2 linked regions of the Homo sapiens genome follow. The protein of the gene in region 2 purifies or fractionates together with the protein of the main gene of each other region. This does not show direct contact. Each region holds a gene or a part of one and is shown on either strand. Other genes may lie near its edges.

Region 1 (3,500 bases), on a different chromosome or scaffold from region 2:
AAAGTTTGCTTTTCCCACGTGGCCTAATATAATTTTGCTCAGAATTTCCCCAGCCCAGTATATTACACACCTGAAGTAGTCCCTGAGAAAACTAGATGTCCAGGTGAAGCAAGACTTTAACGGATGTATGGGTGGAATGCAGTGTATGTGTTTTAAGTCTTACTTCTCTGTGTGGTTATTTTTAAGCTTACAGGGATCTTCAGACCAGGGAAGACATACGGAATGCAGCATGGCACAAACATGGCTGGGAGGAATTGGTATATTACACAGGTAATCTCTTAACAGCCATGAAATATGCTTTTTGTCTTACTGTTTCAATCATGTTCTTTCACCCTGACACTAATAGGTGGGTTTTGTAATAGTATGTTGCTAGGATAGTGAGTTATCAGGTTGTGGGGGGAAGGGAGATAGTCAATTTTTCTCTAATACTTACATGACTTTTTTTCAATAAAGTAGAATATCCATGCTTTCAAATAGGTATATCATCTGTTACAGTTTTCAGACCCTTGGATGTTGTAAATTTTACATCATTACCTGTTTTTGTAGATTTCTATATTCTCTGAAAACTTATTACACAAATAAAATTTTTTTCTAAGCTTTCCTTTTCCATCAGAATTGTTAGTATCCCAAATCAGAACTTAATACATCAATTAAAGAGTGATTTTGAAATTAGATAAATTAAACTTCCTGTATGTACAGTATGTATCTGGGTACATAATACATGCATGTGCACATACATAAGTATATTATGAAACCCTGTTTGCTTGATTTTTAAAAGAAAACAGTTGGCTGAATGTAACCCAGTGGCATTGGTAGAGGTAATCAGTACCAGCCATGTTGCATGGCAAGTATATTTCAGGCCGGGCGCAGTGGCTCACGCCTGTAATCCCAGCACTTTGGGAGGCTGAGGTGGGCAGATCACCTGAGGTCGGGAGTTCGAGACCAGCCTGACGAACATGATGAAACCTGTCTCCATTTGAGAGACTGAGGCAGGAGAATCGCTTGAACCTGGGAGGTGGAGATTGTGCCACTGCACTCCAGCCTGGGTGACAGAGCAAGAATCCGTCTCAAAAAAAAAAAAGTGTATCTCAGCCCCTATACTACCAAGAAAATAAAAGAGTAATTTGTCCTAGAAAGTAGGTGTTACCTTGTCTTTCAGTTCAAGAGATTATATAACATATAATTACATGTTATAATTATATAATTGTATTTGATTTTGCTGCTTACGCGAACGTTTGAGAAATCACCATTTCTCCTCACAGTATGGACTTTTCCTACCTCCCACAAATAAAACAAATATCCAGGTAGGATCTGTTTTTTTTTTTTTTTTTTTTTTTTTTGAGACGGAGTCTTGTTCTGTCGCCAGGCTGGAGTGCAGTGACGCGATCTCGGCTCACTGCAACCTCCGCCTCCCGGTTTCAAGCGATTCTCCCGCCTCAGCCTCCTGAGTAGCTGGGATTACAGGCAGGCGCCACCACACCCAGCTAAGTTTTGTATTTTTACTAGAGACAGGGTTTCACCCTGTTGGCCAGGATGGTCTCGATTTCCTGACCTCGTGATCCACCTGCCTCAGCCTCCCAAAGTGCTGGGATTACAGGTGATCTGCGCCCAGCTGATCTGTTGTAATTTTAATAGCATCTTGTAGGATGGCAGCTGATACAGGGTCCGCTTGTATATTTCTGCCCTTGAGGTTAGTCCTGTATATTATGATATTCTCTTGTTTTCAAGCAGCACATCTGTGAACATTCTCGGCAATCTGTCTGTTAGTGTCATTTACCATAATGTGTTTAGAAAGTAACAAGTGCAGTAACCCTGATCTTGTTTTCAGTTCCACTTATTCAGGAAATGGAATCCAGAATCATGATCCCACTGAAGACCTCGCCCCTCCAGTAAAGCTGTAGAGTTTCTATGTGCCTACATACATTTCTGTGACAAGTATTTGTCGTAAATTAATTTTAATTGTGTATCAAGTGAAAAAGAAACACTGAGGTTTTAAGCTGCTGTATATAGCTTGTGAGAAACCTCTTTTCTTTAAAATTTACATAATCACAAGAAAGGAAAGAATTACAGTTGGACTGATTGTGACAGTGCCTTGTCGTCCTCTTTGAAACACCCCGTGTTGTCCAGTATACCTTATAACACTGAGCCACTTCTCCCCACCCTCCAGAAGGGGTCCACGTTGAATTCTGAATCATCTTGAAAATAAGATTCCAACCACAAAAAAAATTTAGCCATTTCTTTACTAAAAAAAACCAAAAAACAAATCTGTTTTATAATCACAGATTTTTAGACAAATTTCTTGTATCAGGAAGAAATACAAATTTTGTCATGTTTCTCAAGCAGTTTTTCTGAGTAGTTTCTGAGGAGGAACAAATTACAAGTGTACCCAATAACTGAAAATGTTTTAACTCACTCTCATTTGTAAGCAGTCCACATAGTAGACAATGGGTTTTCCAAGCTGGGCAAGGTACATTTAATCAGTAAATCAGTTTCACATCATGTATTGTGATGTTTCAATGTGAGACACAAAAACAATGGCTTGAAACTTGTGTATCATATGTGATTTTGAAATGAACACCTTGAATAGCACTAATTTTTATTTGTGGTATTTTTCTATAACAAAACAAGTAGCTCTAGGAAAAGAGGTTTTATTTTGTAAACGATCATTTGTGACCTCAGACACTCTCTGGCTAATATTTTAATAAGCTCACAGCAGATAATTCTGAGATCATGGGTGAGGGGTGGTGCATGTTGAGATTTAAATTGGCATAAAGCTGCATACTTTTTGTCTAGCTGTTTGATTTCATTTTTTAATATAGTATGCCAATTTTGTGACTGTTACCATGTGAAAGTCCTGTTGAAATGAACAATTGTCTGCCCCACAATCAAGAATGTATGTGTAAAGTGTGAATAAATCTCATATCAAATGTCAAACTTTTACATGTGAATGATTTTCTCAAAGAACATAGAAAAGTCAATAAAATCCTCTTAATTTCCACATATCACGTTTGGATTTTCTTTTTTAATTTGTTCTGAGATTGACAAACATTGCTGTGAATGACCTTGTCACTCTTGCAAAATAGCTTGTCACAAAAGATTGAAGGAAGTGAGGAAGTCAGCTGGCTTCTGGGGAAAATCCCTCCATAGGAACAAATTACGAGGCCCTGGGCAAGGTCATGCCTGGTATGTGCTGAGGGCAGCAGAAGCCAGTGGCAGAAGCAGACATGAGGGAGAGTGTGGTGGGACACGAGCTCAGAGGTCACAGGGCTGGATCCCTTGAGTGTTGGAGGCCATTAGAAAGACCCTAGTGGCCGGGCCCAGTGGCTCACACCAGTAATTCCAACACTTTGGGAGGCCGAGGCCAGAGGATCCCTTGAACGCAGGAGTTTGAGACCAGCCTGGGCAACATGAATGAAACCTCATCTCTACAAAAAATCGAAAAATTAGTTGGGCATGGTAGCATGTGCCTGTAGTCCCAGCTACTCAGGAGGCTGAGGCAG
Region 2 (5,922 bases):
ACAGACTTTTTTGGAACAACTGTTTCACTTTAATACAATAAAAGATAGGAGAAGTCTAAATACCCCAAAGAGGGTATTGTTCTTAGAGAATTCAATAAATGTATATTTGAATTGGTTTCTACTTAGGTAAATTCCTCTTAATATGAAAAATGGAACGAGATCATAGAATCCCTTCTCCAGGCTTGTAATGTGTCCTGATTTAATAGGGACACCAACGTGCAAATCAGGATCTTCATAGTGCATCTCCAGGACTATTTTTGCTGCTATGCTTCATAAAACTTTGATTTACTAGAATTTCCAGGGGCAATGGGAAGAGATGAAGCTACCCAGAGCAGTTATGTCTCTTCCTGACCTTCTATAAAGGACTTTGAGTTCCCAGGCCTTCCCTGGAAAATCACTGTCAGTACTACCTGACCCAATATCCCCAGTGACCTGAAACTCATGGGAAGTTGGGAAGGGGTGATAATAAAGGTTTGGGGAGCACTGGACTAGGCAAGCAGTAACTACATCTAAATTCTGCAAGAAATCATTAGCTGAGGAATACTGAATAAGTATGGCAATTATCATGGCAAGTATTTGCAGTGGTGGTATAGGGGGTGATCTGGACGTCCAGGAAGACAGTCGCCCTTGTTTATTTACATGAAAACCTCTCTTCTCCCATCTAAATTTAATCTCCTGAATGGCAAAAGCATTTCCTTCTGTCTTAGCATCGTCCATATTCACCACGAGTCCTTGCATAGGAGAGATTGGTGTATACATGATGACAACCTGACGAAAATTATCTCCACCTCACCTGAAAAGAATTCCCATCTCAGGATTACAACTGGCCTTTTCATTTGTCTTTGGTCTTGCTAGGTGGTACGTATATTCTAGTAATGAGATTAGGGTCACAGGATATTTTAATCATTCATACGGTTGTATGAAGACACACATGTTTATTTGTAGTTATTCTTTGTCCATCAAACTTACAGTAGTCCTCAGTCTAATGCTTGTTTTCTTAATGTTGGAGGGTGATGACAGCCTATTTTATCTCAGGCTGAAAAACTAATACAATTAAATCAGAGAATCATAGCAGGGAACAGTCATCGTGTTCTACGAATAGCCAGACATTTTTACCAAGGGGTCACTTTCCTGAAACCTGTTTGCGGTTCTCTGTAAATAGAAGTAACTAGGCAGATGTAATAAGCCTAATAGCTCACTGAGGTGGGAATTCTCTGCCTTTGGATTCTGATTGTTACTGCCTTGCTTTGGCTTAGGCATGGATAAACTCTTCTGTGGTGAACAAAAATGGCCTCCAGCCAACCTGGTGGGAGACTTCCCTATCTGACCTCCAACCTTCCCTCGTCTTCCCAGACGAGGGGTAGAAAAGTAGCCCTCACTCCTCCACTCCCAGGAAATGTGCATTTCCCTGCAAGAGGAGAGACAATAAAATTTGGTTTGATAGCTGACACTATTCCCTGTTACTTTTCAGATTTTATTAAAATTAAATGTGTTAATTCTTTGTTCTTTCACCCCAGGGCAATTCTGGAAAGAAAACATATCTTAAGATTGAACAGAAAAACTATTATGAAAAACACCAAGCTCACATTTGTTAAATGACTTTGTGCTCTTGAAAAAAATGTATAAAAAGCACATTGCCAACTGCTCTGCGTGATATCCTTTGTTTGGATTTTAGACGCAGCTTGACTGACACAGAGATCCTGAATAAGAGACTCTTTGGATACTGAAAAGTCTCTTAAATAAGGTGATACACAAATTTCAGAGAACAATTTCAACATTGTTCTGTCGAACGTTATACTCAGTCCTGAACCACATTACTTTCCTGTCTACGTTTCATTTCCTGGGGGCTTGCCAAGTGATAAACAGACCCAGGCGTGTGTGGTAGAGTTCGGGTTTTTTAGCACGAAGTGGGTGGCTGGAGTTTGCTTGAAAACATCAATTGACTTTGTGATCATTACAGAAATGCTGGTGTAAGGTGTTCAGAAGACAATGGAGAAAAAATGGAAATACTGTGCTGTCTATTACATCATCCAGATACATTTTGTCAAGGGTAAGACTTCCAGTTGTCCCTTCTTGTCGGATGGGCCGCTTTAGGGGCGGATGGGGCCTCTGTTCATTTAAAATGCCTTGTGACTGCTGCTGAAATTGATCACCAAAGGACAAATCATTACTAAGGGTTTCAGTTATGTATTTAAGCGGCAGGTATAAGAGAGATGCTAGAATCTAGAAATGATTACTAATGAACACTAAAAATAAGAAGGGAATGGGTCATTTGTGCCACTGCTCTGAGGCATTTTCACCCATTTCCTTTCTAACAGGATCTCTGGAGTAATTGGCAAATTGTGTTTCTTGGAAATGAAATGCTCTCCAAATGGTAGCCAAAACAACTGCGGAAAAATTAAAAATTACAAAGCCATCAACGCTCAGAGATCCTTGTTTAACTTTTTTCTCTCTCAAGTACTCTCTTTCTTTTGGATATAACAAGTATTTCTCATCCAAATACTAAGGTCTTTGGGAGTTGAAAACACGTTGAATTTTAATGAGGCATGTGTAGGTATGAACCTGGGAGACAAAGTGGAATCCTTATGACAGTGGGAACGAGAGCCTAATGGGCCTATTTAAAAAGAGAAGGAAGCAAGATTAGTTCTGTATTCCACAGTATGAGAGTATCATAGTAAGCCTGAGTGTCTTAAGAATTAACTGTGCTTTTCAGACATAGCTATGAAAATATTAAGGAGAATTTCTAAATCAAAAGAGATTTGGAATATAATGCTGTAGATAGGATCAGAGCCATATTTTCAGGCAAAGGATAGCTCACAGGAAGTTACATTAAACTGTACTAACCTCTGCCTACCAAACTTTTGCATCCACAGAAGTATGATAATTCCCATTTGTCAAGTACTTTTACTTTTAAGAGGCTTGTTTCTTCTCAGTTGCTTGTCATCTTTTTATCTTTTCCTTTTGTGAGCTTCAGTGGTACTTGTCACAATAATATATATCATTTCTGTAACAGGATTCCATGTTAATTCTAAAACTGAGGCCAACACTATTGAAGGCATGTCACAGTCTCAATGCTTAACACATTTTAAGTGTCCTGTATCACTCAGTCAGACTGCTGATGGGAAAGAGACTCTACTTATGTCTAGTATTTCAGACCATCGATTAGAGGTGATACTAAGTGGAACCTCTACCTAAGGTTAGATGAGGTCCTTTCAATCCTTGTATATTGAAAGTGAAATTTCTTACTCTAATCAACTAGACTGAATTTGGGAGACAGTTTGGAAGTTATGTGGAAGGAAAATAAAATAAAATAAGTAATAATAAAGTTTAAAATAATAAGCATAACATAGGTAATAGTTAACATTAAGTATAGGTTACTTAGAAGTTATATGTAGGCTAAGAAATTTAAGTAGCCCCTCCCAGCATTGCTAACAAGTTGCAGCTGTGAGCTTATCTCAACCTTCCAAGCTTCTTGCCTGCCCCCAGACCCCCACATATTTCTGTAACTCCTGTTTTACCTTACCCCATCTCTGTCTAGCTTCAAGATTGACTGGTTAAGATAACTAAATTGTAAGTTTTCTCAGAATTGTCACGGGTTAAATAATTTACTGTCTTTGCCTGAAACCTGTATCCTGCCTTGTTTTCCCACCTCAAACGACATATAAGCAAGCCTGCTTTCTTTGTCAGAGTCAGCAGCCATTTTGGGCATGAGTCTGCTGTGGGCCTGGATGCCTGAATTAAATAAAGTTCTCTTTGGTCTCTAAAGGTCTCTTTGTCTTCCTTGGCTGGAGTTTTACTGTTATACTTATGAGGGTTATAGAAAGACCACAGACTCTGGGCAACTGAATTCATTCTTTTACTGGAGGTGTGACTTTTTTTGTTTTGTTTCGTTTTTCGTTTTTTTGAGATGGAGTCTCACTCTGTTGCCAGGCTGGAGTGCAGTGGCATGATTTCGGCTCACTGTAATCTCCGCCTCCCAGGTTCAAGCGATTCTCCTGCTTCAGCCTCCCAAGTAGCTGGGACTACAGGCGTGCACCACCACGCCCAGCTAATTTTTGTATTTTTAGTAGAGACGGGGTTTTGCCGTGTTGGCCAGGATGGTCTGGTTCTCTTGACCTCATGATCTGCCCACCTCAGCCTCCCAAAGTGCTGGGATTACAGGCGTGAGCCACTGCGCCAGGCCTGGAGGTGTGACTTTGAGCATACTGTTTCATCTCTCTGTGGCCCAGTTTCTTCCTCATAAAAAGGGGTTAACAACATCACCTATGGCGTGTGAGGGGGATTAAACAAGATAAGATATGAAAGGCCCTTGTAAACATGTATTTTTCAAAGAAATTGCTATACACATATCATTTATTTTTGCAGTTTCAGAAAGCATCACGTGTGTATTATATTCAGCTGTCGTTTTATAACCCAAAAAGCCAATTATATTAAACGTAAGAAGAATCGTCATACTAAGTTTGCTGGTGTGCTTCAATTTTCAAATAGGCTTAATTTTATTCACAGGTAGTCTGAAACCTTCAATTATATTTTGGTCAGACCAACACATAGATAAATATTTAGAAGTCAGTAATTACCTCTAGCTTCTCTACGTAAATGCCTCCTCATTTATATTGTCTCATGCATCTCTATCTGAGTGAGACACAAGCTCTACTCTATTCCTAAAGCAGCCAGGGAGAAATTTCCTCAGTTGCTCCCCTCACCTTACTGAAGTGACTAGGGTTTTTAATTAAGCGTCATTCTATGTGAATTATTTAAACTCATGGCTCATGTTCTTTCTTTTCAGGAGTTTGGGAAAAAACAGTCAACACAGAAGAAAATGTTTATGCTACACTTGGCTCTGATGTCAACCTGACCTGCCAAACACAGACAGTAGGCTTCTTCGTGCAGATGCAATGGTCCAAGGTCACCAATAAGATAGACCTGATTGCTGTCTATCATCCCCAATACGGCTTCTACTGTGCCTATGGGAGACCCTGTGAGTCACTTGTGACTTTCACAGAAACTCCTGAGAATGGGTCAAAATGGACTCTGCACTTAAGGAATATGTCTTGTTCAGTCAGTGGAAGGTACGAGTGTATGCTTGTTCTGTATCCAGAGGGCATTCAGACTAAAATCTACAACCTTCTCATTCAGACACACGGTAAGCATAACTGGTAGAGGGATGTGCTTTCATTCAGCTCTCTCTCATTCAACAAATGTACATTTTAAGAAAAGCAAGGTTAGGCTTGGTGCTCAGCATACAAAGGTTGAGCAGAAAGAGCTACTGTCTGATAAGAGAGACAGGAAGTGACCACAGCATTTAAGTAAATAAATGTAAACTTGCAACAGTGATAAGTGTCGATAATAAATACTGTAACAGTCTTGTGAAGGAGCACATCACAGAGGCCATTGAAATTGTCCTTTAGAAATTAACACCATAGCTTAAGTCTAAAGAATGAGTAGACACTACCACAATTTAGGAGGTGGGGCTGAGGCAGAGTGGGATTGTGAGTAATCCCAGAGAGAGAAAAGAGCTTGCATGAAGCTCTTTGGAGTGTTTGAAGAAATGGGAAAATGCCAGTGGGACAGCAATACAGCAATTAAAGGATAAGGCAGGTAAGGACCAGATCATGTTGGACCTGGTCAGCTTCCCTTTTAAAAGGTTTCTATTTTGATCTCAGAACCATAAGAAGACATGGAAGTATTTCCAACAAAAGGATGGCATGACATTTATAGGCTGACTGTATTTGTGTTGTTTAAAAAAAAAAAGTCATACTGACTTTCATGTGAAAATGAGGTGAAGATGGACAAGAAGGAGAAGGTAGAGACAACTCAGGAGACCACCTCAGTAGCCCAGAAAAGAGAGAGTGGTAGTTCAGGTAGATATAGAAGGAAAATGGCAAATTTTGTTCATTGGGCATAAAACAGATATGATCATAG

The links.
Region 1: the proteins of CD96 (region 2) and NIPSNAP2 purify together in Homo sapiens (affinity purification with mass spectrometry, with the first as the bait; one large-scale study listed by BioGRID). This does not show direct contact.

What each region holds. Positions count from the first base shown.
Region 1 is NC_000007.14:55,997,180-56,000,679, forward strand, and holds the end of NIPSNAP2 (protein NipSnap homolog 2), read left to right. Parts: intron 1-186; coding exon 187-270; intron 271-1,828; coding exon 1,829-1,893; 3' UTR 1,894-3,000; downstream 3,001-3,500. UniProt on the Homo sapiens protein: Protein involved in mitophagy by facilitating recruitment of the autophagy machinery required for clearance of damaged mitochondria.
Region 2 is NC_000003.12:111,540,260-111,546,181, forward strand, and holds the start of CD96 (T-cell surface protein tactile isoform 2 precursor), read left to right. Parts: upstream 1-1,937; 5' UTR 1,938-1,989; coding exon 1,990-2,050; intron 2,051-4,786; coding exon 4,787-5,143; intron 5,144-5,922. UniProt on the Homo sapiens protein: May be involved in adhesive interactions of activated T and NK cells during the late phase of the immune response. Promotes NK cell-target adhesion by interacting with PVR present on target cells.